3 separate regions of the Homo sapiens genome follow, and all the other regions are reported to be linked to region 1. Evidence: microRNA targets listed by miRTarBase, many of them from high-throughput screens and not tested one by one. Region 1 holds a microRNA gene; each other region holds the end of a gene's coding sequence.

Region 1 (10,654 bases):
AAGCCTGTCTTGGAAAAATTTCAAATCACAAACAGAACCCCGACATCATGCAAGTCTGATGATAAGCACGCTCTGCAAATGTATTACCAAGATCAGCAGCATCTTCAACGTTGCTTGTCTCAAACAGTAACACTCTAAAGGGATGCACGATCTTTTCTTTTATACAACAGACAGTGCTTCCATCTAGAGGGTCACTGCCTGAGATCTTCTTTTTTTTGACACGGAGTCTCACTCTGCCGCCCAGGCTGGATGCGGTGGTGGGATCTCGGCTCATGGCAACTTCTGCCTCCTGGGTTCAAGCGATTCTTCTGCGTCAGCCTCCTGAGTAGCTGGGATTAGAGGCACCCACCACCATGCATATTGCATATATGACTGCATATATGACCTGGTCATGCACCCAAGATGTTGGTTTCATTTCCCCAGTGAAAACTCAAACCCCATGCACTCCACCTCCGTGCTCTTGCTGAGCACATCCCATCTGCAAGGGACACTGAGGTCCCCCTTTGACTCTACCTGACCCCACATGAGGCTTTATAAATCAGTGCCAGAATAATTTCCATGGACTAAAAGGTGTTAATGGCCATGTGTGGTGGCTCACGCCTGTAATCTTAGCACTTTGGGAGGCTGAGGTGGGCAGATCACCTGAGGTCAGGAGTTCGCAACCAGCCTGGCCAACATGGTGAAACCCCGCCTCTGCTGAAAATATAAAAATTAGGCCAGGCGTGGTGGCTCATGCCTGTAATCCCAGCACTTTGGGAGGCAGAGGCCGGTGGCTAACTTGAGGTCAGGGGTTTGAGACCAGCCTGGCAAACATGGTGAAATCCCATCTCTACTAAAAAAAAAACAAAAAACAAAAAACAAAAAGTAGCCAGGTGTGGTGGTGGGCTCCCGTAATTCTAGCTACTCAGGAGGCTGAGGTAGAAGAATTGCTTGAATCCGGGAGGCAGAGGTTGCACTGAGCAGAGATCACGCCTCGGCCCTCCAGCCTGGGTAACAGTGAGACTCCATCTCAAAAACATAAATAAATGAATTTTAAAAAATGAAAATATTATCCAGGTGTGGTGATGGGCACCTGTAATCTCACCTACTTGGGAAGCTGAGGCAGGAGACTCGCTTGAACCTGGGAGGTGGAGGTTGCAGTGAGCCGAGATCACACCACTGCACTTCAGCCTGGGTGATAGAGAGACTCTGTCCGCTAAAAAAACCATTTGAATCCAAAAGACCTAGGTTGGATGTGCCACCGCACTCCAGCCTGGGCAACAGAGATCCTGTCTTAGAATAAAAAAGCAAAACCAAAACAGAACCCCGCCATCGTCCAAGCCTCATGATAAGCATGCTCTACAAATGTATTACCGAGATAAGCATCAACTTCAACGCTGCTTTTCTCAAACCGTAACACTCCAAAGGGAAGCGCCTTCTTTTCCTTTGGACAAGAGAAAGTGCTTCCCTTTGTAGGGTCACAGCATGAGATCTTCTTGCTCCAGAACTCTGGGTTTTTTGTTGGAATTTTCCTTGCCCAGGTTAAAATGGACACAAAAATGAGGATGCATTTATTGGCCCTGTTTGCATGTTTTCTGGAATCCAGAACATAAACCCCTAAAATGACCATCTCCAGTTCCTTGCTACAAAGAATAAGCAGGTTAGCCTTATCCCTAATCCCAGCACTTTGGGAGGCCGAGGTGGGCGGATCACCTTAGTTCAGGAGTTCAAGGCCAGCCTGCCCAATATGGTGAAACCCTGTCTCTACTAAACGTACAAAAAAATTAGCTGGGGTGGTGGTGTGTGCCTGAAAATCCCAGTTACCCGGGAGTTGGGGAAGGAGAATCACTGGAACCCGGGAGACAGAGGCTACAGTAAGCCGAGATTGCGCCACTGTACTGCAGCCTGGGCGACAGAGCAAGACTGTTTCAAAAAAAATAAATAAATAAAAATAAAAAAAATTTAGTGTCAGGGACAAGGAGATTCAACTAAAAAGATACAAATAAATAGAAAAAATAAGAACATTGTATTAATATTGACATCCATTGGGATTACAGAATAGACTGGATAGATGTGGAGGCCTATATTTTTTGTTTTGTTTTGTTTTGAGATGGAGCCTCGCTCTGTCGCCCAGGCTGGAGTGCACCTGCGCGATCTTGGCTCACTGCAACCTCCGCCTCCTGGGTTGAAGAGATTCTGCTGCCTCAGCCTCCTGAGTAGCTGGGATTACAAGCACGCACCACCACGCCCACTTAATCTTTGTATTTTTAGTAGAGACGGGGTTTCACCATATTGGTCAGGCTGGTCTCGAACTCCTGACCTCCTGATCCGCCTGCTTCAGTCTCCCAAAGTGCTTGGATTACACACCTGGCCCTTACTCTCCTAATGAAGGAAACATGGTTTGGATTGATTAAACTAAACTGATGAAAGGCCTGTATTTGAAGTGACCAACCCAAATGGAGCCTCAGGAACCAGATGGCATGTAATCTGCGTTTTTAAAGAGATGGGATCTTGCTATGTGGCCCAGGCCGGAGTGCAGTGGCTATTCAAAGGTGTGATCAGTGCATGGTATAGCCTTAAAATCAAAGGACCCTCCCACCCTAGCCTTTGCAGTAACTGGGACCCTGTGTGTCCCAGGATGCCTGGCCGTGTCACCTATCTTTGAAATGGGACAAGGTGGCTCACACATTTAGGATCACTTAAGCTCAGCTGAGACCATCCCAGGCAAAAGAGACCCCATCTCTACCAAAAATTAAAACCTGAGCCCAACTACTTGCGAGGCTGACAAGAAGACCACTTGAGGCTGGACGTGGTGGCTCACGCCTGTAATCCCAGCACTTTGGGAGGCCAGGGAGGTGGATCACTTAAGGTCAGGAGTCGAGACCAGCCTGGCCAACATGGCGAAACCCTTTCTTGTCTAAAAATACAAAAATTGGCAGGGTGTGTTGGTGGGTGCTTGTAATACCAGCTATTTGCGAGGCTAAGGTGAAAGAATCACTGGAACTCCACGGTGAGTGGAGATCCTGCCACTGCACTCCAGCCTGGGCGACAGAGGTGGGAGTTACAGTGAGTGGAGATCCTGCCACTGCATTCCAGCCTGGGCGACAGAGCCAGTCTCCATCTCAAAATAAAATAAAATAAATAAAATAAAACAAAATAAAATAACAGGCTGGGCACGGAGGCTCACACCTGTAATCCCAGCACTTTGGGAGGCCGAGGCGGGTGGATCATGAGGTCAGGAGTTTGAGACCATCCTGGCCAACGTGGTGAAACCCGGTCTCTACTAAAAATACAAAAATTAGCTCGGCATGGCGGTGCGTGCCTGTAATCCCAGCTACTCAGGAGGCTGAGGCAGGAGAATCGCTTGAACCACGGAGTCGGAGGTTGCAGTGAGCTGAGATTCCGCCACTGGACTCCAACCTGGTGACAGAGCGAGACTCCGTCTCACACACACACAAAAATAAGAATTAATAATAATAATAGAGCAAGACATGACCCCAAGAGATCTAGTTTGGAGTGCAACCCCTCCCTCTCCAGCCTGGGCAACAGAGACTGGTCTTGGAAAAAAATAAAACCAAAACAGAACCCTGCCGTCATCCAAGCCTGATAAGCATGCTCTGCGAATGTATTACCAAGATCAGCATCAACTTCAACGTTGCTTTTCTCAAACCGTAACACTCTAAAGAGAAGCGCTTTGTTTTCTTTCAGACAACAGAAAGTGCTTCCCTCCAGAGAGTCACAGCATGAGATCTTCTCGCTCCAGCCATCTGGGATTTTTGTTGAAATTTTCCTTGACCAGGTTAAGATGGACACAAATATAAAGATGCATTTATTCGCTGTTTGACCGTTTTCTGGAATCCAGAACATAAACCTCTAAAAGGACAATCTCCAGGCTCAGCAGATTAGCCTTGTTCATCAAGGGGAATCCTCCTAAGTTTTGTCTCCAAGGAGAAAAAGCAATGCCCACTACACATACCTTACCTTTAACCAAGAGAATTGAGGTGGATTTCTAGAGAACAGCAATGGATTGAGTCACATGGTCACTTGAGTTCCAGCACAGGGACACACAGTCATGATGGGAGCATCCAAAATGGAATCTAAATTTGCCAGGCGTGGTGGTGCCCACCTGTAATCCCAGCTACTCAGGAGGCTGAGGCAGGAGAATTGCTTGAACCCGGGAGGCGGAGGTTGCAGTGAGACGAGATCGTGCCAATGCACTCCAGCCTGGGTGACAGGAAAGAAAAAAAGAATATGCATTGTCTTACACACAAACATTCTCCAGGATAGAGCACTGCCTAGGCCGTAAAAGCTCCTCAATAACATTTGTACAGAAGTACGGGTGGAGTGCAGTGGCTTACACCTCTAATCCCAGCACTTTAGGAGTCGAAGGCGGGAAAATTACATGAGCTCGAGTTCAAAACTAGCCTGCCCAACATAGTAAAACCTCATCTGTAAAAATACAAAAGATAGCCAGGTGTAGTGGTTCATGCCTGTAGACACTAATTCAGGAGGCTGAGGTGGGAGGTAGAGGCTGCAGTGAGTTGAGGTCACAACACTGCACTCCAGCCTGGGCAATAGAGCCAGATGGTGTCTCAAAAAAAATTAAAAAAAAAAAAAATACACAAACAAAAACAACCCCAAAGTGATATAAGAGTATTCTCTGTGTGCAGAAGACTATTTTGTGTGAATATAATTATACATAGAAGATTATATGATAACATGTATATATTTTGGAGACCCTGTCTCAAAAAAACAAAGTTCCATGTACTATATGCTCACATAAAGAATAATTCCTACATACTAGTGCTTGGGCAGCAAGAACGAAACTCCATCTCAAAAAAAAAAAAAAGAAAAAATCAAAACAAAAACAGAAGCCCACCATCATCCATCTCTGATGATAAGCATGCTCTGAAAATGTATTACCAAGATCAGCATCAACTTCAATGTTGCTTTTCTCAAACGGTAACCCTCTAAAAGGAAGCACTTTCTTTTCTTTCAGACAACAGAAAGTGCTTCCCTCTAGAGGACGACAGCCTGAGATCTTCTTGCTCTGGCACTGTGGATTTTTTGTGGGAATCTTCCTTGACCAGGTTAAAATGGACGCAAAAATAAAGATGCATTTATTTGCCCTGTTTGCATGTTTTCTGGAATCCAGAGCATAAATCCCTAAAAGGACCATCTGCAGTTCTTTGCTTCAAAGAATCAGCAGGTTAGCCTTGTTCATCAACGGGCAATCCTCCTGAGTTTTGTTCCCAAAGAGAAAAGGCAATGCCTACTACACATACCTTATCTTTAACCAAGAGAATTGGGCTGGATTTCTAGAGAATAGCAATGGATTTTGAGCCAAGTGGTCGCTTGAGTTCCAGTACAGGAGCGCACAGTCCTCATGGGGGCATCCGAAATGGAATCTAAGATGTTGAAGAATATACACTGTTGTAGGCACAAACATCCTGCAGGGTAGACAACAGGCTACCCTGTAAACGCTCCTCAATAAAATCTGAGCAGAAACAGACGAGTATAGGTGGGGCACAACAGCTCACACCACTAATCCTAGCACTTTAGGAGGCCAAGGTGGAAGATCACCTGAGCTAAGGAGTTCGAGACCAACCTGGGCAACATGGGGAAACCACATCTGTACAAAAAAACCAAAAGTTAGCCAGGTGTGGTGGTGTATGCCTGCAGACAGCTATTCAGGAGGCTGAGCTGGGAGTTGGAGGTTGCAGTGAGCCGAGATCGCACCACTGCACTCCAGCCTGGGCGACAGAGTGAGACTCTGTCTCTAAAATGAATAAGTTAAAAAATAAATACATAACAATAATACAAAAATTAGCTGGGCGTGGTGGCATATGCCTGTAATCCCAGCTGCTCGGGAGGCTGAGGCAGGAGAATCATTTGAACCTGGGAGGCAGAGGTTGCAGTGAGCAAAGTTCCTGATACTGAGCTCCAGCCAGGGTCACAGAGCAAGACTCTGTCCCAAAAAAGAGGGCCACTTGAACCCAAGAGATCTAGGTTGGAGGGGCCACCATACTCCAGCCTGGGCAACAGACACCCTGTCTTAGGAAAAAAAACCAAAAAAACCCCACAAAACCCCAACATCATCCAAGTCTGATTATAAGCATGATCTCCAAGATCAGCATTAACTTCAATGTTGTTTTTCTCAAAGAGTAATCCTCTAAAAGGAAGCGCTTTCTCTTCTTTCAAGCAACAGAAAGTGCTTCCCTCTAGAGGGTCACAGCCTGAGCTCTTCTTGCTCCAGCACTGTGGGTTTTTTGTTGGAATTTTCCTTCACCAGGTTAAAATGGACACAAAAATGAGGATGCATTTATTGGCCCTGTTTGCATGTTTTCTGGAATCCAGAACATAAAACCCTAAAAGGACCATCTCCAGTTCCTTGCTTCAAAGTCTCAGCAGGTTAGCCTAGATCATCGAGGGACAATCCTCCTGAGTTCTGTCTCCAGAAAAAGCATTGCCTACTACACATACCTTACATTTAACCAAGAGAATTGGGCTGGATTTCTAGAGAACAGCAATGGATTTTGAGCCAAGCGTTCACTTGAGTTCCAGCACAGGGACACACAGTCCCGATGGGAGCATTCAAAACTGAATCTCCCATGTTGAAAAATATACATTGTTGGCCGGGCGCAGTGGCTTATGCCTGTAATCCCACCACTTTGGGTGGCTGAGGCGGGCGGCTCACATGAAGTCAGGGGTTTCAGACCAGCCTGGCCAACATGGTGAAAAAAAAAATACAAAAGTAACCGGGCGTGGTGACGGGTGCCTGTGATTCCAGCTACTCAGGAGGTTGAGGCAGAAGACTTGCTTGAACCTGAGAGGCAAAGGTTTGAGTGAGCCGAGGTCCTGCCACTGCCCTCTGGCCTGAGTGACAGTGAGACTCCATCTCAAAACAAATAAATACATGAATAAATAACATGCAAATATTAGCCAGGCATGGTGTCAGGCACCTATAATCCCAGCTACTCAGGAATGTGAGGCAGGAGAACTGCCTAAAACTGGGAGGTGGAGGTTGCAGTGAGCTGAGATCACGTCACTACACTCCAGCATGGGTCACAGAGCAAGACTGTCCGAAAAAAGAGGACCATTTGAGCCCAAGACACCTAGGTTGGAAGTGCCAACACACTCCAGCCTGGGCAAGAGACCCTATCTTAGAAAAACAACAACAACAAAACAGGACCCCACCATCCTCCATGTCTGATGGAAGCACGCTCTGCGAAGTTATTACCAAGATCAGCATAACTTGTTGGGAGGCCAAGGTGGGCGAGTCACCTGAGGTCAGGAGTTCCAGACCAGCCTCGCCAACAAGGTAAAATCCCAGCTCTAAAAATACAAAAAAAATTTTGCCAAGCGTGGTGACACGTGTCTGCAATTGTACCTACTTGGGAGTCAGAAGTTGCAGGAGCAGAGACTGGGCCGCTGCACTCCACCCTGAGGGACAGAGTGAGATACTGACTCAAAAAAAAAAAAAAAAAAAAATTGCTTGAACCCAGGAGGCAGAGGTTGCAGTGAGCCGAGATCACATTATTGCACTCCAGCTTGAGTGACAGAGTGACACTGCCTCACAAAGTCAAAGACAGAACAAAAGAACCCTCCTTGCCCTCTTCTTGCCTGTGCATAGATTAAAATATTCACCTGTAGTCCCAGATACTAGGAAGAGGAGAGGGAGAGAGCACATTCTACCCTGGGCGGCATAGCGAGACCTCCGTTTCTAAAATACAAAAATTAAATCAATTGTACATTGATGACGTGCTCATGTGCCCTACATTTCAGCTTCATTTACCCAATAGAAACTCAAAGCCCACGCACTCCACCTTTGTGCTCTTGCTACGTAGTGAACATCCCACCTGCAAGGGACACTGAGGTTCCCTTCAGCTCTACCTCAACCCAAGTCAAGGGAGGTTCTGTAAACCAGTGCAGGCATAACTTCCACGGAGTAAAAGGTGTTGAGGGCTGGACGAACAGGCATCGCTCACTACGGCAACAACGAGAGCTGCGGCGCATCCCACCTGTTACTAGAGAGGCCCTTCTAGGGTCCTCAAGGTTTTTGTGAAAAGTATCTGTGGTTTTGTCCCATGTGACAATTATCACTGCCACTGAGACTCATCTTGTCTACCATAGTTTGTTTCTCATATTAGCCACAGCCAACATTTCACAGCTTACCAAGCAACTAGCCTTTAAATGCGAGGTACCTTGGGTTCATTACCCGAAGAAAATAGCATAATCAGGGAAGCTGCAGTCAAAGAACTCACCGGGGCTGGCGTGAGTGGGTGGCGGTTGAATCAACTACACCCTTCCTGCAGAGAAAGCAGCTCTATTCCGAGAAACGACGGCAAGTTGTTGGAGAGAAAAAAATTTCAGTGTCAAGGACAAGAAGATTAAACTAAAAAGACACAAACAGGAAAAACAAGAAAATTTTGTTAATATGGACATCCATTTGAGATTACAAATTAAGATTGGATAGACTTGAAGGCTTACTTACCTTTTTTTTAAGTCCAGCTCAGTCGCCCAGGTTGGAGTGCAATGGTGCAATCTCAGCTCACTGCAACCTCAGCCTCCTAGGTTCACGCCACCACACCCGGCTAATTTTTGTATTTTTAGTAGTGATAGGGTTTCACCATATTGGCCAGGCTGGTCTTGAACTCCTGACCTCAGGCGATCCGCCTGCCTTTGCCTCCCACAGTGCTGGGATTACAGGCATGAGGCACCATGCCCCGGCTACTTACTCTCTTAATGAAGGAAATGATTTCGATTGATTACACTAAATTGATGGGAGACCCATTTCAAATAACCAACCCAAATGGAGCCTCTGTAACCAGGTGCCATGTAATCTGTTTTTAAAGAGATGGGATCTTGCTATGTTGGCCCAGGCTGGAGCGCAGTGGCTATTCGAAGGTGTGATCAGTGCATGGTACAGTCTGGAAATCAAAGGTCCCTCCGACCCTGGCCTCTGCAGTGGCTGGGACTGTGTGCCCCACAATGCCTGGCCATGTCAACTCTCTTTGAAATGGGTCATCAAGACGAGGTGGCTCACACGTGTAGGACCACATAAGCTGTGGAGATGAGACTATCCTGGGAAAAAGAGACCCCAATTGTACCAAAAATTAAAAACTTAGCCAAGTATGGTGGCACGCCCCACGTAGTCCCAACTACTTGAGAGGCTGACTCAAGAGGACCACTTGAGGCTGGGCGCGGTGGCTCACGCCTGTAATCTCAGCACTTTGGGAGGCCAGGGAGGAGGATTACTTAAGGGCAAGAGTTGAGATGAGCCTGGCCAATATGGTGAAACCCTTTCTTGTCTAAAAATACAAAAAGCAGGGCATGGCGGTGGGTGCTTATAATTCCAGCTACTCGGGAGGCTGAGGTGGGAGAATGTCTGGAACCTGGGAGGCTGTAGTTGTGGAGATCCTGCCACTGTACTCCAGCCTGGGTGACAGAGTGAGACTCCATCTCAAACAATTAAAAAAATGAAATAAAAAGAAGACCATCTGAGCCCAAGAGATCTAGGTAGAAGTGCCACCGCACTCCAGTCTGGGCAACGGAGACCCTGTCTTAGAAAAAAACAAAACCAAAACAGAACCCCACCATCGTCCACGTCTGATGATAAGCACGCTCTGCAAATGTATTACCAAGATCAGCATCAACTTCAACGCTGCTTTACTCAAACCGTAAACCTCTAAAGGGGAGCGCTTTGTTTTCTTTCAGACAACAGAAAGCGCTTCCCTCTGGAGGGCCACAGCATGACATATTCTTGCTCCAACACTGGTTTTTTGATGTTGCTGTTGGAATTTTCCTTGACCAGGTTAAAATGGACACAAAATAAAGATGCATTTATTTGCCCTGTTTGCATGTTTTCTGGAATCCAGAACATAAACCCCTAAAAGGACCATCTCCAGTTCCTTGCTTCAAAGGCTCAGCAGGTTAGCCTTGTTCATCAAGGCGCAATCCTCCTGAGTTTTGTCCCCAAAGAGAAAAAGCAATGCCTGCTACATATACCTTATCTTTAACCAAGAGAATTAGGCAGGATTTCTAGAGAACAGCAATGGATTTTTGAGCCAAGCGTTCACCTGAGTTCCAACATAGGGACACACAGTCCCGATGGGAGCATCCAAAATGGAATCTAAATTAGCCAGGCGCCCACCTGTAATCCTAGCTACTCAGCAGGCTGAGACAGGAGGATCGCTGGAACCCAGGAGGCGGAGGTTTCAGTGAACCGAGATCATGCCATTGCACTCCAGCCTGGGTGACAGAGTGAGACTCCGTCTCCAAAAAATAAAAATAAAAAAAAAGAATATACATTGTCATACACACAAACATTCTCCAGGATAGACTACTGTCTAGGCCGTAAAAGCTCCTCAATAAAATTTGAACAGAAATACACAAGTACAGGTGGGGTGCAGTGGCTCACACCTGTAATCCCAGCACTTTAGGAGTCGGAGGCAGGAGGATTACTTGAGCTCAGGAGTTCAAGACTAGCCTGGGCAACATGGTGAAACCTCATGTGTCCAAAAATACAAAGGTTACCAGGTGTTGTGGTTCATGCCTGCAGATGCTAACTCAGGAGGCTCAGCTGGGAGGTAGAGGTTGCTGTGAGCCGAGGTCACAACACTGCACTCCAACCTAGGTAATAGCGCCAGACTGTGTCTCAAAAAATATTTAAAAA
Region 2 (9,359 bases), not on the chromosome of region 1:
ACTTAAATGCCCATTTGTTTAGCATTCCATGTGCCGTTAACCTGTCCAAATGAAAGTGATGGAGCATTTCATTTCCCGGTTTTAATAGAGGCTTGAGGCCTGGGATTGGAGGAGAGCGGAATTGAATGTGGGGGCGAGGGGGCCCCCGGTACTGAGGCTCATCCATCTCCCCATCATTACCGCTTTCTGGAGGTGCAGCCAAACCTATTAGCACATTTATTTATTTAACAATTTCCTGAACAGGGAGTTCAGCTTGATTGCTTTCGGATACAAATGTCAGTCTTTTAAATAGTCATTAAAAAGGAGTCCTCTCAGGTCTGCCTGGGGAGGAGGGAAGAGGGAGGTGGGCCATCTCCTGAGCTGGGCAGGAGTAGAGGCTGGGCCCCACCTGGAGGAGTCTCCAGGGGGCAGATGTGTGTTTGGAGCCCACCTCTCACCCTGTGTATCTCCAGTCCCATCCCCTGTTCCCTTCCTCATGCCGTCACTCACAGCTGTGTCTGTCTGCGCCCCCACCCTCCTGACTCTACTCGCAGCCCCAGCTGAGTTTGTGCAGCATCCCCAGTCCATCTCCAGGCCAGCTGGGACCACAGCCATGTTCACCTGCCAAGCCCAGGGTGAGCCACCGCCTCATGTCACGTGGCTGAAAAATGGACAGGTGCTGGGGCCAGGAGGCCACGTCAGGCTCAAGAATAACAACAGGTATGTGTGTGGTGTGTGCTGGGGTGAGGACCAGGGGAGAGCAGGGAAAGCGGGGCCTGGAGTGAGTGGCCTGAGTAGGCTGTACACCTCCTGCCAGGGAAGAGCACAGAATTGGGAGTCTGGAGATTGAGGTGGAGTCCCAGTTCCACCACCAACTTGCTGGGAGACCTCACACAAGTCGTTTGTCTCCTGGAAAGACTCAGTTTCTCCATCTTTCAAATGGGGAGATTTGGTCAACCTCCAGGGAGGAGGGAACCTGAGGCTGTCTCTCTCCCCTGCAGCACACTGACCATTTCTGGAATCGGTCCTGAGGATGAAGCCATTTATCAGTGTGTGGCCGAGAACAGTGCGGGCTCATCACAGGCCAGTGCCAGGCTGACCGTACTGTGGGCTGAGGGGCTCCCCGGGCCTCCCCGCAATGTGCGGGCAGTCTCTGTGTCTTCCACTGAGGTGCGTGTGTCCTGGAGTGAGCCGCTGGCCAACACCAAGGAGATCATCGGCTACGTCCTGCACATCAGGAAGGCTGCTGGTGCGCGTGGCCAGCTCTGTTGCCCCTTCCTCTAATTCACTATTTCTTATTCCTTCCAATCCTGCACGTCGTGACCCGATGCCTCCCTTTCCTTCTCCCCGCTGTCCCCCCGGGCACCCTGGCTGCCCTCATTTCACCAATGCTGGCAGGACTCCCCCAGTCCTTCACACTCCCCTGCCCACCCTGTGCCTCTCCAGACCCACCGGAGCTGGAGTATCAGGAGGCAGTCAGCAAGAGCACCTTTCAGCACCTGGTCAGCGACCTGGAGCCCTCCACAGCCTACAGTTTCTACATCAAGGCCTACACACCAAGGGGGGCCAGCTCAGCCTCTGTGCCCACCCTAGCTAGCACCCTGGGTGAAGGTGAGGCCTGGGTGTGGAGCACAAAACCACAGGCACTCACTCAGGGTATCAGAGCAGAACCACCATGCACACTTGTTCTGGTTGTGCGCTGTGCAGGGTGCCCGGCCCTGAGGCTGTCAGGGCTGAGTCTACTTGGAGGAAAGGGCTTCTTTTTCTAATTCCTAGGAAGGTGCTGCTTTCATAAGCACATGCCCTTGGCCAGAGGCCAGAGGGCTGTCAGGCTTTTGGGGGTCGGGGTCACAGGTGGAAGGTAGAAAGATAGAGCTTCCACTGGGTCCTCACATCGTGGCCTCCTTCTCTACCTGCAGCCCCTGCCCCACCCCCACTGTCAGTGCGAGTCCTGGGCAGCTCCTCCTTGCAGCTGCTGTGGGAGCCTTGGCCCCGGCTGGCCCAGCACGAGGGCGGCTTCAAGCTGTTTTACCGCCCAGCAAGCAAGACCTCCTTCACCGGCCCCATCCTGCTGCCTGGAACCGTCTCCTCCTACAACCTCAGCCAGCTCGGTGAGGCAGACACAGCCCAGAGCCTAGGGGGCTTGGCAGAGTGCGGCGCTGAGGGCCAGGAGGTGGCGTACAGGGGTCACCTCCCTTTCCTGGCTAGGACAGGGCACGTGGTTGGGCAGGGGCAGTTGCTCATCCGCCCTGCCTTCCTCCAGACCCCACTGCAGTGTATGAGGTGAAGCTGCTCGCCTACAACCAGCATGGAGATGGCAATGCCACAGTCCGCTTTGTGTCTTTGAGGGGAGCATCTGAGAGGACAGGTGAGGGCTGGGGATGGAGTGCGGGGCTGAGTGGGTGGGAAGCCGGGAAAGTAATGGGGTGAGATAGCATGTGCCACGCTTGAAAACACAGGCTTAGACCACAGTTTGAAGCTTGGCCATGCACATGCTGGCTGTGTGACCTTGGTCAAGTTACTTAACCTCTCTGATCCCAGTTTTCTCTATAATACAGGGATAATAGTACCTACTTTACAAAGCTGTGGCAAGGATGAAATGGTCCATGCTATTCCTAGTATCTGGTAAAAAGAACCAAAAAGATTGGTCTGGAGTCCTGTAGGCAAAGTCAAAGGATGTTCCCACTCCCACTTGGGAGTGGGAGCAGCTGAAGGAAGAGGAGTCCCCAGAGGCTGGGTGTTTGGGAGTGCTTCAGACCTGGAGAGCCAAAGCCTCCAACCCGTCCCTGTCCCCAGCCTTGAGCCCACCATGTGACTGCCGGAAGGAGGAGGCCGCCAACCAGACGTCCACCACAGGCATCGTCATCGGCATCCACATCGGGGTCACTTGCATCATCTTCTGTGTCCTCTTCCTCCTGTTCGGCCAAAGGGGCAGGTGGGTCCTGGGCCAGGGAGAGGGGCTGGGCTGGTGTGTGGGGGACTAGGCCTAGAGAAGGTGAGTGTGGGCTCACTGCCTCTGTCTCTTTTCTCTCTCCCTCCCCCCAACTCTTGGCTAACCCTTAGGGTCCTCCTGTGTAAAGATGTGGAAAACCAGCTGTCCCCTCCACAGGGTCCCCGGAGCCAGAGGGACCCTGGCATTCTAGCCCTAAATGGGGCGAGACGGGGACAGCGGGGCCAGCTGGGCCGAGACGAGAAACGTGTGGATATGAAGGAGCTGGAGCAGCTGTTCCCCCCGGCCAGCGCAGCAGGGCAGCCGGACCCCAGACCCACAGTGAGTGCCCATGTCTTAAACAAACCCCCGCCTCAGGCTCTGACACTGCCACCTTCCAATCCTGCCCCCCTTCACCTTGGCCACGGGCCTCGATCATTGGCCTTAGTCAAACTGCAGGTCTTCTCTTTGTGTCCCTGAGTCAGGCAGGGAGACCTGGAGACCCTAAGGCCCAAGTGGGGTGAGTTGGAGCCTGGCGCCCTGGCCCTCAAGCTGACGCCTGTGTGACGGGCTCTTTCCCCAGCAGGATCCTGCAGCCCCCGCTCCGTGTGAGGAGACCCAGCTCTCCGTGCTGCCACTTCAGGGGTGCGGCCTGATGGAGGGGAAGACGACGGAGGCGAAGACCACAGAGGCCACGGCTCCCTGCGCCGGCCTGGCGGCTGCCCCACCACCCCCAGATGGAGGCCCTGGCCTCCTCAGTGAAGGCCAGGCTTCCAGGCCTGCAGCGGCCCGGGTTACCCAGCCAGCTCACTCGGAACAGTAGCCAGTGTCTGGCAGGCTCCAGAGGGTGGACGGAGCGGGGCCCATTCTCAGGTCAAAAGCAAGATTTCTACTGTCATGTGGGATTTGGATGGTCCTGGGGGCTCCCCAGCATTTCTATCCTGACTGCCTCTTGGGTTGTCAAAACCCAAGGCAGCCTTGACAGGGACCCCCCGGCCCTAACACCCATCAGGAGTTGGAGCAGTTCCTGCAGGAGCCTGTTCCTTCCCTGGGCTGACGCCCCCTTGCCTCTGCCTGGTACCCACATGACTTGGAACTGAACTAACATTTTTCTTTAAAAAGCAAAACTTAAAAAAAAAAAAAAAGAGGAGAGAGATAGAGGAAGGTGAATTAGACTCCAAAAGATGACCCTGCTGTAGCTGGGCCCTGACACTGTCACCCTCCACCGACTTTGTTTTCTCAGGATGGATTTTTGCTGTTTTGGCTCTCAGCACCTACCTCAGCCGGAATGAATGTCCTGGGGGGCAGTGGGGCGGTGGCCTCAGCCCCCTTACCCCACAGAGCCCGAATGCACTCCTACCTCAAGTCCCCTTGCTGGGGACCCCCTCTCCCTTCCCACACTGTTGTCCAGAGTAAAAAAAAAAAAAAAAAAAAAAGCACTTCCCCGTTTCCAGGTGTGAAAGAAAAAAAAAAGCACTTCCCCATTTCCAGATGTGAAAGAAAATGTCTACCTCAAGGCTCGCTGGCTCTGTGGGCTGTGTTGTCACTGGACCTGCCTCCCCGCCCCTCCTGCCCACAGCCCACCTACCTCTCCTGCAGAGGAGAGGCCAGAGGTTGGGCCACCAAGGGGAACTCTTGTGGCCTACAGAAATAGAAATGGATTGGGCAGAGAAAAAATGTGAAAGCAGCCAAAAATGAGAGGAAATTTGTTCCTTGAAGTATAAATTGTCCAAACGAGCCACCTCCCAGCACACCGCCTGTCCCCGTCTTGTCTGTCCACTCCCATTTTGAGCCAGCCCATCCTTGATGGGGATGCCCATGAGGAACCTGGGCTTGGGAGGGTGGCATCAGCTGGCCGCCTGCCTCCTGTCCTGCAGGCCCGGCCCCTGGAATGTACCATGTGTGGGATGGGTGTGTGGGAGGGTGAGGGGGTGTGGGTGTCCCCTGCAGAGGCGCCCCAGCCTCAGGCACCCAGCCAGCCTGATCCACCCCTCGACAGGGGAGCATCCACTGTCAGCAGCCATGGCCGGAAGCTATTTTTATACAAGGTGTGTTAAGGGTTATGTTCTTGTGACTTTTTGTTACTCTTTTCTGTTGTGTTGTTCTTTGAACTACTTAGTTAAAGAAGAAGAAAAGAAAACCAAGGAAACAAATACCTATTTTTGGTTATACTCAGAAACATTTTTTTAAATAGCAGAAGAAAAACTTTTTTTAAAGAAAAAAGATAAGTGTATTCCTTAAGAATGAGACCATAAATATCCCTGACCCCCAATCCTCTAGGGACACCTCCACCCTGAACTTTAGTTAATTAGCTGAAGAAGATAGAATTTGTGGTGTTTTCCTAGAAAACTAGAGCTGTGTCCGCGTGGACTTGGGGAAGGGTAGTCCCTTCCCTTCTCCCAAATGATGTGTGGATGCCCAGGGCTCCACAAAGCTCCAAGGCAGTGCCCCCTCTGTTCCCAAAGCAGCTTCTCTCGGGAGCCTCCCTCTCCCTTGGGAAGGGTGCGGCTGGGGCAGGAGGGGGCTGGGGGGCCACCTGGCCTTACTTGGGTTTTGTCACACTCTGCTCATTTTGACTGAATAAAAGTCCTGTTGCCAAAGTGAACCTGGAGTTTTTGGGTGGTTGTGTCAGGTCCTGGGGGAGGGGCTGCGGTGCTGGGTGGGCCAGGGCCCTCACAGGCCCAGAACCTGGGATAGTAACAGCAGACCCTATACACTACAGCTCTCTGCCACATGAGGTGCAGTTCCTGAGTCCTCACCCCTCCCTGTGACTAAGATATGCTAGTGACCGTCATCTCCATTTTATTTATTTTTTTGAGACAGTTTTTTACTCTGTTGCCAAGGCTGGAGTGCAATGGCACAATCTCAGCTCAACCACAACCTCTGCCTCCTGGGTTCAAGTAATTCTCCTGCCTCAGCCTCCTGAGTAGCTGGGATTACAGGAGTGCGCCACCACACCCAGCTAATTTTTGTATTTTTGGTAGAGACAAGGTTTCGCTATGTTAGCCAGGCTGGTCTCTAACTTCCGATCTCAAGCAATCTGCTCATCTCAGCCTCCCAAAGCGGTGAGATTACAGGCATGAGCCACCGTGCCTGGCTGGTCATCTCCATTTTATAGTTGATGAAACCAAGAAAAAAGAGGTGAAGGAAATGTCCACAATCCCACACAGGCAGTTGGTCAGTCTGATCCTCACACAGGATCCGAGTCTGTATCCAGGCCAGGCTGCCAGGTTCCAGGCTCTGCATTCTGACCACCGCCCCACCCCTCCTCGGCCAGCAGCGAGGCGGCTGCTCGCTCAGCCCGCCAAGGTTAAGCGCTCTCCAGGTGCTGGCCAGGCAGGGCTGTGTGCTTTTCACGCACTGTCTATGAGGAAGGACTGGTTTCCTCCCGGTTCTGAAGCTGAGGAAACAGGCTGTGACTGAGTGATTCCCTCCAGGGCACTCAGCCAGGACTCCGGCCAGGCCTCTCTGTTCTGCCATTGTCTCTCAGTCCAGGCTCCTGAAGCCAGTTGCCTGGAGCTGCTATGGCTTAGGTTCGAGAGAGGCTGGGCTTAATGGCAGTTATGCTGACAAAGATCCGAAGGTCTCAGCTGGCCTCAAGCTTAGTAAGAGGCAGCAGTATAATGCAGCTACTGCTGAATTTGAAAGCCTGGGTTCACACCCAGGAGGCTCAGCAGACCTGGAAAGCCAGGTTCTAAACCCAGGGGCACCTTTCGAGAGGAACGTACCAGGAGAGCAGTGGGTAAATTGGGCTCCCTGGCTATGGCTGGGGTGAGGGGGAGCTCTCTGGAGGGCCTCCTCACTCTCCCTACCCACCCTCACCCAGACCAGCTCAATATTTTTTCCCATATTTTTTCTGTCTTATTACATGTTGGCTTTTTTTTTTTTTTTTTTTTTTTTTAATTTGAGACAGAGTCTCACTTTGTCGCCCAGCCTGGAGTGCAGTAGTGCGATCTCGGCTAACTGCAACCTCCGCCTCCCAAGTTCAAGCAATTCTCCTGCCTCAGCCTCCCGAGTAGCTGGGATTATAGGCACCAACCACCATACCTGGCTAATGTTTTGTAGTTTTGGTAGAGACAGGGTTTTGCCTTGTTGGCCAGGCTGGTCTCAAACTCCTGACCTCAGGTGATCCACCTCCCTCAGCCTCCCAAAGTGCTGGGATTACAGGCGTGAGCCACTGTGCCGAGCCCATGTTGGATTCTTGATGAAATTTCACTTGAAAGCAGGATTGTGATCCTAAAAGAACATCTGAAGGTACCTGGCCAGGCACTTCCAGAAGAGGCCTGTGGATAGCTGGGCCCGAGGTCAGGTCAGGACCAGTGACGGTGCTAGGGATGCTGAACCAGGCAAGAGAGCGCTGAGGCCTATAGGGCGCCTATCCTGAATCTCCAGGGAGGTTGCTGACTTTCCCTGATTATCCCAGGAAAGAACTATCTCAAATATAGATATAAAACTCTTTCTTTACACGGCACTTTGCACACATAGATGTTTTAACAACTTCAGCCATCCAAGGGCAGCCTGGGGAGGTGATTGTTCAAGTCAACCCTGTGGGGTTGGGGGAGTAGACAAGTAACATCCAGTGCCCCTGTCCCTTCTAAGAGTCCCAGATGGGAGGTGTCTGGAAATGTTTAGAAACCACAAAATGGGCCAGGCGCAGTGGCTCACGCCTATAATTCCAGCACCTTGGGAGGTCAAGGTGGGCAGATCACCTGAGGTCAGGAATTCGAGACCAGCCTGGCCAACATGGAGAAACCCCCGTCTCTACTAAAACTACAAAAATTAGCCAGGCGTGGTAGTGCATGCCTGCAATCCCAGCTACTCGGGAGGCTGAGGCAGTAGAACTGCTTGAATCGGGGAGGCAGAGGCTGCAGTGAGCTGAGATCATGCCACTGCACTCCAGCCTGGGTGACAGAACGAGACTCTGTCTCAAAAAAAAACAAAACAACAACAACAAAAAACCCCACGAAAATAAGGCTGGGTGCAGTGGCTCACGCGTATAATCCCAGCATTTTGGGAGGCCGAGGCGGGTGATCACCTGAGGTCAGGAGTTCAAGACCAGCCTGGCCAACATGGGGAAACCCCATCTCTATTAAAAAATACAAAAATTACCCAGGCATGGTGGTGCCTGCCTGTAATCCCAGCTACTCGGGAGGCTGAGGTGGGAGAGTTGCTTAAACCTGGGAGGTGGAGGTTGCAGTGAGCCGAGATCACGACACTTCACTTCAGCCTGGGCAACAGAGCAAGACTCTGTCAAAAAAAAAAATAAAAATCCACCAAAATATGATCATGCAGATATATGCAAATTGTATACAAAACACAAACAAATGTAGGCAGGGCCTGCCCTAACCATCACAAGTCTCAGCCAGGCTTGGGTAGATGACAGAGCAGGGTTCCAGTGAGGAAGGTTAGCAGAAATAGGTGTCAAAGCTGAGTGGCCTGACTGGAATCCAGGTCCTGAGATCTCAAATAGCCCAGAGGCCTCAGGCTGAAGAACCCCGTCAAACCTCACTGTCCCCCACAAACTATCTTTGGGCAGAAATCTGCCACAACCAAGGCTGCAACCTGTTCCAATCATCTAAGGCTCTGTAACAAACAACCCTAAACCTTTTTTTTTTCTTTGAGACGGAGTCTTTCTCTGTCACCCAGGCTGTAGTGCAATGGCATGATTTCTGCTCATTGCAACCTCTGCCTCCCGGGTTCAAGCAATTCTTGTGCCTCAGCCTCCCGAGTAACTGGGATTACAGGCCCACACCACCACACCAGGCTAATTTTTTGTATTTTTAGTAGAGATGCGCTTTTGCCATGTTGCCCAGGCTGGTCTGGAACTTCTGAGCTCAGATAATCTGCCTGCCTCGGCCTTCCAAAATGCTGGGATTACAGGCGTAAGACATCACGCCTGGCAATTTTTTTTTTTTTTTTTTGAGACCAAGTCTCACCCTGTCACCCAGGTTGGAGTGCAGTGGCGTGATCTCCACTCACTGCAACCTCCCCCTCCCAGGTTCAAGCGATTCTCCTGCCTCAGCCTTCTGAGTAGCTGGGATTATAAGCACCACCATGCCCAGATAATTTTTTGTATTTTTAGTAGAGACGGGGTCTCACTGTTTTAGCCAGGATGGTCTCGATCTCCTGACCTCGTGATCCACCTGCCTCGGCCTCCCAAGGTGCTGGGATTACAGGTATGAGCCACCATGCCCGGCCTTTTTTTTTTTTTTTTTTTTTTTTTTTTAAGAGACAGGGTCTCACTGTGTTGCCCAGGCTGGAGTGCCGTCAAACCTTGGTGGTTTCACATCACATTTATTTGGCTTACAAATATGCAGTCTGGGCAGGGCTCAGGGGCAGCTGTCTCTGCTCCACTCTGCATCAGCGTGGGCAGCTTGAAGCCTGGGGGCTGGGATCCCCTGAAGGCTCCCTCCCTCCCGCGTCTGGTGGCTGATGCTGGCTGTGAGCCCAG
Region 3 (10,654 bases), not on the chromosome of region 1:
TGATGGAGTTACATTGGCGAAAGCACCACACTCCAGGGACTACTTTTCACCTGTATCATGTCCAGAAAATTGACCTTGTCTACATAATAACCAAATCAAGGCTGTGTGACAAAGCAAAATGCAGATTCACAGTGAGAGAACTGTCAAGAGGACCTAGACATTATGTTTGCGATTAGCTCCAGATGGGATTACATGGAAAACCAAACTACAATGAGAAACTTGCCTGATACCTGGTCACCACGCTGAAATGGCCTGAGATGTGTGTCCCAGATGGGACAGACATGGCCTCAGTCTGGCCACTCTCCTCCGGTCCTCTGCTGGCTGCTCTCACCTGTTCATTTTTTGTTGGGTCATACGGTGTGCGGCTGCCTGACCCTGCCCTACTCATGGTTGGGTGGCACATTGAATTTCAGTGTTAGCACCAGGGTAGGAGGCCTTGGGGTGGTCAGGCTGAGGTAAAAGGGACATAGCTCTACTGGGAGGACTTCTCAACATCGCTGTGAAGTAGGTTGCTGTTGCTGTTATTAGTCCCATTTCACAGATGAAGAAATGTGCATAAAGGGCTTAAGCAACTTGCCCAGAGTTACCCAGCTGGCAAGTGGCAGAGCCCGGATTGAGCCCGGGCAGTATGGGTCCAGAGCTGGTGTGCTTAATCACTATGCTGAGTTCCCACTATGATGGGTCTTGGGCTGTACCAGCTCAGAGTTGATACCAAAGTTACAGATTTTTAGAAACAATATGCATTAATGGCTTTGTTATCTATATAAATTTAGGTAGGTAATAGTCTGGTTATACCAATATACCAAACGTTTGTAAGGTTGTTCGCTGCTAGGTACAGTCTTTTAGTGGTATTTTGTGAGTAAACAAGGGGAGAGAGAAAGATAAGCTTTCTCTGGCTGCTTGAGGTCTGACTTCAGGGAAGGTACCACTCTGGTCTAAGTCAGCTGAGTTTTAAGAACCCCTTCCAGAAGAGAGATGAAGCAGTAGAATGAAATTTTTTTTTTTTTTTTAAGACAGAATCTTGCTCTGTCACCCAGGCTGGAGTGCAGTGGTGTGGTCTCAGCTCACTGTAACCTCTGCCTCCTGGGTTCAAGCGATTCTTCTGCCTCAGCTTCCCGAGTAGCTGGGACTACAGGGGCACGCCACCATGCCTGGCTAATTTTTGCATTTTTAGTAGAGATGGGGTTTCACCATATTGGCCAGGCTGGTCTCAAACTCCTGACCTCGTGATCCGCCCGCCTTGGCCTCCCAAAGTGCTGGGATTACAGGCATGAGCCACCACACCCAGCTGAATGAAACTTAATAGGGAGTTATGAGATACAGACGTTCCTAGTAAATTCAGAGGGAGAGAAAACAAGGGCTTTGCTTTGTTCTCAGTGTAGTTAGTATTAGAGCCACCGTTAACAGGACTGTTTTCCTATTACCTTGTCTAATATGCATTGCTTCCTCTGGGGAAAGTGAAAAACTGGAAGGATGAGGACCCAGGTGACTAAGATAAGCTGGTGATATTGAAGGGACAAAACTTTGATGGTTGGAGGAACCCAGCAGAGAAAGGGAAAAGATAAGAGCTCTTGCTAACTCAAAATTTTACTTGGGGCTGATCCTACCTGCTCTCCCAATCCAGAGGCAAGAACAGTTGTCATTTAGTAATTCAGGTCTCAAACATAAGGAGTTAACTTCAAGAGATGTTTAATTATCCAGTCAATAAATATTTGGGAGTCTAGGAAGAGCTATTCAGTGGGCTGAGGCCACAAATAATAATGGGAGGACCACTGCATGTTGAAGTGAGGCCAAGAAACAGGTAGAAATCATCATCCCTCATAGAGTTTGTACGTATGGTTAAAAGGTTACAGGGTAAGTGCACTTCGTTTTCAATCTGGCAGTTATAATGCTGTGTTCCTTTGAAGGAAATGAAATGGCAGGTGAGAATTTTCAGCATACACAGAGCTTCCTCACCACCTTCTCTCTCCCCTGTCGTTCTGCAGCACCCACCGCCCAGCCCAGGGACCCTGGCAGGGACTGCGTCGACCAGCCAGAGCTGGCCAACTGTGATTTGATCCTGCAGGCCCAGCTTTGTGGCAATGAGTATTACTCCAGCTTCTGCTGTGCCAGCTGTTCACGTTTCCAGCCTCACGCTCAGCCCATCTGGCAGTAGGGATGAAGGCTAGTTCCAGCCCCAGTCCAAAATAGTTCATAGGGCTAGGGAGAAAGGAAGATGGACTCTTGGCTTCCTCTCTCTGGCTGGCAAAGGGAGTTATCTTCTGGAATACATTAGCTCTTTCAAAAACCCACCCAGTGTTTAGCCTCAACGGCAGCCAGTTACCAGCTTCTCTCTGTAGCCTTCAGCAGTGTTTGCATCTCTGACATAACCACAGGCTGCTGTTTTCAAGAAGAGCAATCTGTTTGGATAAGAAAAACCTTTACTTTACAGCTTCCCTTTATAATTTGTTACACAGGAATAGTTAAATGCATTTGTTTGTTTGTTTTTTGAGACAGAGTTTCACTCTTGTTGCCCAGGCTGGAGGGCAATGGCGCGATCTCAGCTCACTGCAACCTCCGTCTCCTGGGTTCTTGATTCTCCTGTGTCAGCCTTCTGAGTAGCTAGGATTACAGATGCCTATCACCATGCCTGGGTAATTTTTGTATTTTTAGTTGAGATGGGGTTTCACCATGTTGGCCAGGCTGGTCTCGAACTTCTGACCTCAGATGATCTGCCCGCCTCAGCCTCCCAAAGTGCTGGGATTACAGGCATGAGCCACCACGCCCAGCCATCAATGCATTTTTTTTATTTTTTTTTTGAGACAGAGTTTCGCACTTCTTGCCCAGGCTGGAGTACAATGGTGCGATCTTGGCTCACTGCAACCTCCACCTCCTGGGTTCAAGCGCTTCTCCAGCCTCAGCCTCCTGAGTAGCTGGGATTACAGGTATGTGCCACCATGCCTGGCTAATTTTGTATTTTTAGTAGAGACGGGGTTTCTCCATGTTGGTCAGACTGGTCTTGAACTCCCGACCTCAGGTAATCCGCCCGCCTCGGCCTCCCAAAATGCTGGGATTAGAGGTGTGAGCCACTGTGCCCAGCCCATCAATGTGTTTTAAAGCTAGCTGTCAGGGTTCCACTTAATTTAAAGCTGGGCAGGGAGATGTGTAATGATTTCAAAGTTAACACCTGTTTGTTTTCTAAAGGGCATGCCAAGTCCTGCTGTATCAGGGAAGTATTCTGTGCTAAAATCAGCGATGGTTCATTGCTCTAGTCTCTCTCACCCTTCTAGGCAGTGCATCAGTCAGCTCTAAATCTGGTGCAGAGGGTTAACAGCATAACCCTTGTTGGCAAAATGGAATAGATGTTAAGACCTCAAATAGGGATTTGGGATGAAACAGCTGCAGTTAGCACTGTTATCTGAGCATGAAAGAACTGGAAACGCTCCTTACGTCGAGATGTTGGACCTTGAAGCCCTCCTGAGGCCAACATGCAAATCTGGCTGTGACGGTTCATCTGACACCTGTGTAAAGCTGACCAGCCTGCTCTGTACAGTGACAATGAGGAGCCCCTCTCTTCCTTAAGTAGGAATCTGTGAAGCAAAATGTTTGCTGCCAAAGACAAATCAGACTGTCAGTCATTAAAAACAGCATTAGCAGGATGAGGATAGCAATGGGGAAGGGTTGTGGGCAATGCAGTAACAGGGAAATGGCTTCAGAAATGGTTTGAGTTGGAAGACAACATTCTTCATCTCTCAGGACTTCTAATTCCTTGATGCTAAAAGAAGAGGCATGGATTCTATGAGCTTCCAAGTCCCTTTCCACTTTAACCTTCTACAAATCTTTCAGAGGACTGCCTAGTAGCAAAGGTTATTCCTGGACACAGGAAAGACGGGCATTACAGGGACCAAAGCTCTGAAAGGTGACTTTTATTACCAACACACTGGCTGGAAAAGGGACAAACCACATCACGGGTGAGTGATACTTCTCAGTCTTCTCTACTCATTCAACAAAGGAAATGTGGGCTGGGGCAGAGGTCTTTTTTCATTTAATACTGGAAAAATATTGAAGAGCATCCATGTTCACTTATGGCTGGTTTTGCTATAGAAATTGGAAAATAAAGGCCACTTTTTTGAAATCCCCAGTTTAATTAAACCAGATTTTGGCCTATTGGTATAAACACATCAGAAGGTAAGTTTGAGGTTAGCTAGCAGCTAACTAGTTCTAATAGAACCAGTCACAGAATAGTGGGCTAAGATTAGAGGTAAAACTCATTCTAGGCCAGTGGTTCTCAACTTTACCATATTGCGAGCTTAAAAAAAAAAAACACAACCTGGGGGGTCCCCCTGCCCCACTAAAATTTTGATTTAATTGGTCTGGAATATAGGCCAGGCGTTAGGATTTTAAAAAGATATCCTCAGGTGATTCTATTGCATAGCCCAGGTTGAGAAGCACTGCCCCACCCCGCTGAGATTCTGCATTTCTAACCAGCTCCTAGGTGAAGTCCATGCTGCTGTTACAGACCACACTTTGAGCAGCAAGAATCTGACTTTAGAGATACACTCAGGATTAAAGTATGAATGAAAATATGAATCTTAAGGGTATTTTTCTAGTCACTAAACTAGGGATTTACAGCAGCAGTAGAATGGAGAGTAAGACCAAAAGAACGAAAAATAAATTCATTTACTAATAAAGGAAAGGGGAAAGAACAGCCCTTCATGGGCAAAAGCTTCTACCATGAACATTTATTTTTGTTAAAGCAGATTATAAATTTTCATCAGTACAAATATATATAACTTACATTTGATTGTAAGGCCAACGTTCAAAAGTAAAAATGAGATGAGCTCTCTTATTGTTATCCGAGGTCAAGAGGCTGCAACTGTCAAGGGGATGTTCTCACCAAAAGGGGGTTTGGGGGAAGAGGACACACACAAAGCTAATAAAACCAGAATCCCCATCCCCACAAAACTCATGGGAACAAAATTTAAAGGATAAAACAAAACCCACCAAGACCCATATTACAAACCAATATGGTAACCTGTGTTCCCTTCTATGGTATGATTATGTCATGTTACCTTAGTGTTAAAGGATTAACATAAGGAAACTGCAGCAATATATAAAAGATATATTCTCTATAGAGCATATTTCGATTGATTCCATTAAAATAATGACATTAGAATTCCATCATAGGTTTAAAACCAGGACAATACTGCTTTTCCTTTATTTAAAAAAAACTACAACCTAGTGACTGTATTGGTCATAAGCATGATTGTTGTTGCAATGTGCTACTTACAATGAATGACTGACAGAAAACAAGCTAGGGATCCTGTCTGCAGCTTCCAGCCTTTCCTCTTTTTATTTCAGTAGGCATCAATGATAAATCAATCTTATGTACAATTTCTTACAACTAGCCCCTTTACCTTTGGCAAGATTACTTACAACTCATACAACTTCTTAATATCTGAGAACTATTTAAAATATTCTAAATGCATAAAAATAAAGATTTTGGCTTTTGATATATATAATATTTATTCTGTTACTCAAAATGGAAGCTCAACTTCTCCCCCAAAATATAGCTCTGCTGGGCAGTTGCTGATATGCCCTCCTGGGAATTCTGGCAGCATAGCGTGCCTCTCTGTTCCCCAGCCTGAGCACAAACCACTCTTCTTGATCTCTAATACAGGCCACTACTGACAGGAGGCAGGTGAATGGCCTGAAAAACAAAGGGAGATTGCTTTGCTTCCTGTTGTGTTTTACATTTCAGTAAATGTGCTTGGAATATAGATTCTTGTTCAGATACTTTGCCTCTCTGTTGCCAGAGATTTGTAAGGGGGTAAGGGAAGAGGGAGTACAGAAAGCAACATTTCCTTGACTTCTTTAGCCTAATTGCAAGGCAGCTTTTCTCTAGGAATGCTTTTTCCCATGTCTTTCAAAATCACCCCTCACAGTACTCTGGGCCTGGACTTGTTCCTTGGGACCTTTGGGATTAGTGAAAAGAGTACTAATCAGGAGACAAAGTCTGTTTTGCTCCTTTGACCGCTACCCCCTGCTCCCTGTCTGGTATGGACAAGATACATAGCCATAATGATTGCTTAAAGTTCAATTTCAAACGTCTTCTGTAAGTCACTGGAGAAAGGGTTGGTAGGGGAGGGATTAGTACGCTGCTTGGACTTATTTTCTAATGCAGCCCACTGGGCTTCAAAAGGATCCACTGGGCAGGTGCCTGTAGGAACCTCTGTATGCCTGTCTGCTGAGGCCAACCTGCCATCATCTACACCATTGAAAGCTGCAGAACCGTTGAGGTGCTGAGCAGGAGGCTTAAAGAAGGGACTGGTGGTAGCACTGCTTGCCTCGTAGTGAGGGAATGTCTGCTGCCTGACCAGGCTGGGTGACTGATGGGGATGGGCAGCCTGAGGGTGGCCTGCAGTGCCAAATACGTTGGCCACCATCTGGGAGGGAGTGATGCCCACCACAGGCACATTAGGGGCTGGATAGGGCATTCCATTGGCCACAGGATAGGACTGGGCAGGGACAAAGGCTGGTTGCAGGGCTGGGACCACACCCACTGGCACAGGCTGAGAGGTGAGGAATGCATTCCCTTGGAAAGGTGATGCTGGCTGGGAGATGGCAGTGGGTGGAGGAGGCTGGAGAACTGGCTGCAGAGGAGCAGCTGAGGCCTGGGGCTGCTGAGCCCGGACGCTCTTAGACACCTCTTCTAACCATCGGTCGGCCTCAGAGGGAGTACGTCTATGACCGGCCTGGAAGAGACCTGGAGAGGCAGCACCAGAAGATTGACCCCACTCGGTCCCTGGAACCAACAAGATGAGAGACAAAAGAATCAGTTAGGGGCATCTTTCCTCACCTTATAATCTTGGTTATTTGAATGATCCTAACATGTACAACATGTCCCCCCCTAATGGGACATTTTGTGGTTTTGATAGGTAGGAGTAAAGTCTCTATTACCAACTGGGATTTTGTGGTAGGATGAAGAAAACTTGTCAAGACCATGCTGCTGTGTCAGCCACACTGAAGCACTGTCTAGATATGGCTCAAATGCATTAAACCACGGCAGCTGACTGATGTCAGAAACCCCTCGCTGTTGCTATGGCTCATCCACAATACAGAAACTAGCTGGTTGTGGTAGCTCACACCTGTAATCCCAGCTACTTGTGAGGCTGAGGCAGGAGGACTACTTGAGCCCAAGAGCTGGAGGCTGCAGTGAGCTATGACTGTGCCACTGCACTCTGGCCTGGGCAACACAGTGAGAATTCTGTCTTAAAAAAAAAAAAAGGCCACGTGCAGTGGCTTATGCCTGTAATCCCAGCACTTTGGGAGGCCGAGGTGGGCAGATCACCTGAGGTCAAGAGATCGAGACTATCCTGGCCAACATGGTGAAACCCCGTCTCTACTAAAAATACAAAAATTAGCTGGGCGTGGTGGTATGCATCTGTAGTCCCAGCTACTCGGGAGGCTGAGGCAAGAGAGTTGCTTGAACCTGAGAGGCAGAGGGTGCAGTGAACCAAGATACTCCAGCCTAGTGACACAGCGAGACTCCGTCTCAAAAAAAAAAAAAAAAAAAAAAACACCTAGCTTGCACATCCTCTAAAGGGCCCAAGGCAATTCATCTTCTGCTCTAACAGAGCAAAAAGAAAATAACCAGTGACCTGGCCATATCTTGCTGGCCTCTGCCTGGCTTCCAGAAATATGTTGTCTTTTTGGTGAACTGCCTTTATTACTATGTTAAAACCTTTTGAGGCCGGGTGTGGTGGCTCACACCTGTAATCCCGGCACTTTTGGAGGCCAAGGCGGGTGGATCACGAGGTCAGGAGTTCGAAAACAGCCTGGCCAACATGGTGACACCCCATTTCTACTAAAAATACAAAAATTGGTTGGGCATGGTGGCATGCACCTGTAGTCCCAGCTACTCGGGAGGCTGAGGCAGGAGAGTTGCTTGAACCTGAGAGATGGAGGTTGCAGTGAGCCAAGATCATGCCACTGCATTCCAGCCTGGGTGACAGAACAATACTCCACCTCCAAAAAAAAAAAACTTTTTGGTTTTATAATTAATAGATGTTTTTTATACAAAACTAGAAAGTACAAAAAAGCAAAAATGAAGTGCTTTTTCTAGCACTTTTTGTAGGCCTCCTATTGTAGGAGCAGGGCCCCCTCTTTCTACAGGAATGTCTGCACATCACCAAATCCGGTGATGGATTCTCTGAGGTGGGGCCCTGGAATCTTTTTTTTTTTTTTTTTTTTTTTTGAGACAGAGTATTGCTCTGTTGCCCAGGCTGGAGTGCAGTGGCGCAATCTTGGCTCACGGCAAACTCTGTCTCCCAGGTTCAAGCGATTCTCCTGCCTCGGCCTCCTGAGTAGCTGGGACTATATGCGCATGCCACCGCGCCTGGCTAATTTTTGTATTTTTAGTAGAGATGGTTTCACCATGTTGGCCAGGATGGTCTCCATCTCCTGACCTCGTGATCCACCCACCTCAGCCTCCCAAAGTGCTGGGATTACAGGCATGTGCCAACACACCCAGCCGGAATCTGTATTTTATAAAAGCTCTATGGGTGGGGCTCTGTTCCACAGTCCTGTTCCACAGTCCTAATGACTATCAGTCTGATCTCTTTTGTTCTCCTTCACCATCCTTTCTTATGTAAGCAACTTATTTCTAGGAGGGAACATAGTTTTCCTGAAAGGATTCCTCCCTAGTTCCCACTCAGCTAACTGGCTGAGTTTTAGAACCAGGGTCACTTATCTGATCCCAGAATCCTCAACACCATCTGTGGCCACCTTACCCGAACATGTGGCTGCAATTTCCTTGTTAGCAGCATCAGGGGCATGGGCCCAAGGGTTGGTTTCACGCACAGGCATTGCTACGGGTGCTAGAGCAGTATGGGCTGGCTTAGCAAGCACATGGAAGGCTGAGTCAGTGCCATTAGCTACAACGGGAGCAGACAACATCAATGGAGTTAATTCATGCAGGGTGTACAAGTGACCCCTTGGAGCTGTGTCAGTCAGGTGAATGTACAATACTGGTGGAATGGATAAGAGAGAAGAGTTGATGTTTGGGAAAACCATGATATCTTGCATTGGATGTACATACCATTAGGCAAAGAAGCAATCAGAGATTGTAATTTTTAAATGGTTGTATAGATAAAGTCAAATAACTGTTCTAGGAAAATATGTGCATGGGGAGTGGGGAAATGAAACCTACGAAAACAATTTCAAATTAAGGTGAACAGAGCTGCTGCGTCTTAGGAGCAGCAAAAAATATCTAACTATTCTAGATATAGCTTAGCCTTCGGCATAATGAAGTAGGTATAGCATTTCCCTCTTCTTCACTTTTCCAAAAGGTCAGATTATGTTAACAATAATACTGGTTAAAAATAGGCCAGGTGTGGTGGCTCACGCCTGTAATCCCAGCACTTTGGGAGGCCGAGGTGGGTGGATCACCTGAGGTCAGGAGTTCGAGACCAGCCTGGCCAACGTGGCGAAACCCCGTCTCTACTAAAAATACAAAAATTAGCTGGGTGTGGCAGTGTGCACTTGTAAACCTAGCTACTAGGGAGGCTGAGGCAGGAGAATCACTTGAACCCGGGAGGCGGAGGTTGCAATGAGCCTAGATCACACCACTGCACTCCAGCCTGGGCAACAGAGTAAGACTCCATCTCAAACAAAAAAAAATTACTCTTTGTTTCCTCCTCAAAAGTTAAAATGTATATATGATTCGTTATTATGTGCTAGTCATTAAGCTAATATTTTACATGCATCATTTCATTTAATTATCTCAAAAACCCTACGAGTCTGGTATTATCCCCCTATTACAGATGAGAAATCGAAGTTGGTATGTTTTCATTTGCTTGATAGATTTCTAATTTGCTACACAATTAATTTCAACTTTTTTTGAAGGTTTTTTTTTTTTAACTCTCCTGGTAACTCACAGAACATTTTTTAACAAAGATTTTTTTCCCCCTCTATGATGTTTACAATATCACAACATACCTACTATTCTTTCCTCATCTCCCCTTGTTAAAATCTGCTAACCCTTGTTCCTTTTACTCCAGATACCTATATTAGTTTCTTCTCCTTAGCCCAGCTCTCAATAACATTCAGTTTGGTGTAGACAAGCACCCTCCCCTGACCTACAATATAATTATATCCTTTTTAGGACTGGACAGCCATGCCTATGGTGTTGGTACTATTTTTTTTTTTTTTTTTTTTTTTTGAGATGGGGTCTCGCTCTTGTCACCCAGGCTGGAGTGCAATGGTGTGATCTCGGCTCACTGCAACCTCCGGCTCCCAGGTTCAAGCAATTCTCCTGCCTCAGCCTCCCGAGTAGCTGAGATTATAGGTGCCTGCCACCATGCCCGGCTAACTTTTGTATTTTTAGTAGAGACGAGGTTTCACCATGTTGGCTAGGCTGGTCTCGAACTCCTGACCTCTGGTGATCCGCCTGCCTCAGCCTCCCTGTTGGGATTACAGATGTGAGCCACCGCACCCAGCCGGTGTTGGTACTGTTTACCTAGAGTTTGTCTAAAAGACTGCCTTTGCTTTTTTGGTGGCAAAAAAATTTTTTTTTTCACCTAGAAACTGGGAGCCCTCTAAAGGCAGGGAAAGGAAACTGAAATATTCAATTTTGCACACTTAGTGCCTTGTAGGCTGGCAGAATCAGCAGAAT

What was found. The annotated mature microRNA hsa-miR-520f-3p reads AAGUGCUUCCUUUUAGAGGGUU and lies in region 1 at 4,944-4,965, opposite strand. An mRNA with a match to its seed (bases 2 to 7 or 8) in the 3' UTR can be bound and repressed. Matches are read on the target gene's strand: a 7mer-m8 pairs with bases 2 to 8, a 7mer-A1 pairs with bases 2 to 7 and ends in A, and an 8mer does both.
Region 2: miRTarBase lists IGDCC3 as a target of hsa-miR-520f-3p. Seed matches in the 3' UTR shown: 7mer-m8 at 4,343-4,349 and 7mer-m8 at 4,380-4,386.
Region 3: miRTarBase lists PAPLN as a target of hsa-miR-520f-3p. The part of its 3' UTR that is shown has no 7-base or 8-base seed match.

The regions. Positions count from the first base shown.
Region 1 is chr19:53,701,818-53,712,471 of GRCh38, reverse strand. MIR520C (microRNA 520c) reads right to left here and starts at 5,019; the gene lies at 4,933-5,019. It overlaps MIR526A1 (microRNA 526a-1), which reads right to left and starts at 6,220; the gene lies at 6,136-6,220. It overlaps MIR518C (microRNA 518c), which reads right to left and starts at 3,737; the gene lies at 3,637-3,737. LOC107985346 (a long non-coding RNA gene) reads right to left here. Exons shown (of 5, transcript XR_001753998.1): 2 at 8,244-8,374; 3 at 7,627-7,702; 4 at 5,265-5,387; 5 at 4,163-4,203. It also overlaps MIR518B, MIR524 and MIR517A.
Region 2 is chr15:65,323,281-65,332,639 of GRCh38, reverse strand. IGDCC3 (immunoglobulin superfamily DCC subclass member 3) reads left to right here. Exons shown (of 14, transcript NM_004884.4): 7 at 534-699; 8 at 981-1,228; 9 at 1,426-1,590; 10 at 1,899-2,090; 11 at 2,243-2,347; 12 at 2,776-2,914; 13 at 3,043-3,250; 14 at 3,492-5,513. The coding sequence ends at 3,731. Among named protein-coding and RNA genes, the nearest start is that of RNU5B-1, 23 kb to the right of the region's middle. RefSeq lists enhancers at 1-242, 6,262-6,805.
Region 3 is chr14:73,270,510-73,281,163 of GRCh38, forward strand. It overlaps PAPLN (papilin, proteoglycan like sulfated glycoprotein), which reads left to right. Exons shown (of 27, transcript NM_001365906.3): 27 at 1,986-4,114. The coding sequence ends at 2,155. NUMB (NUMB endocytic adaptor protein) reads right to left here. Exons shown (of 13, transcript NM_001005743.2): 12 at 8,772-8,915; 13 at 4,707-6,784. The coding sequence ends at 6,069. Among named protein-coding and RNA genes, the nearest start is that of PAPLN-AS1, 30 kb to the left of the region's middle. RefSeq lists an enhancer at 6,019-6,519.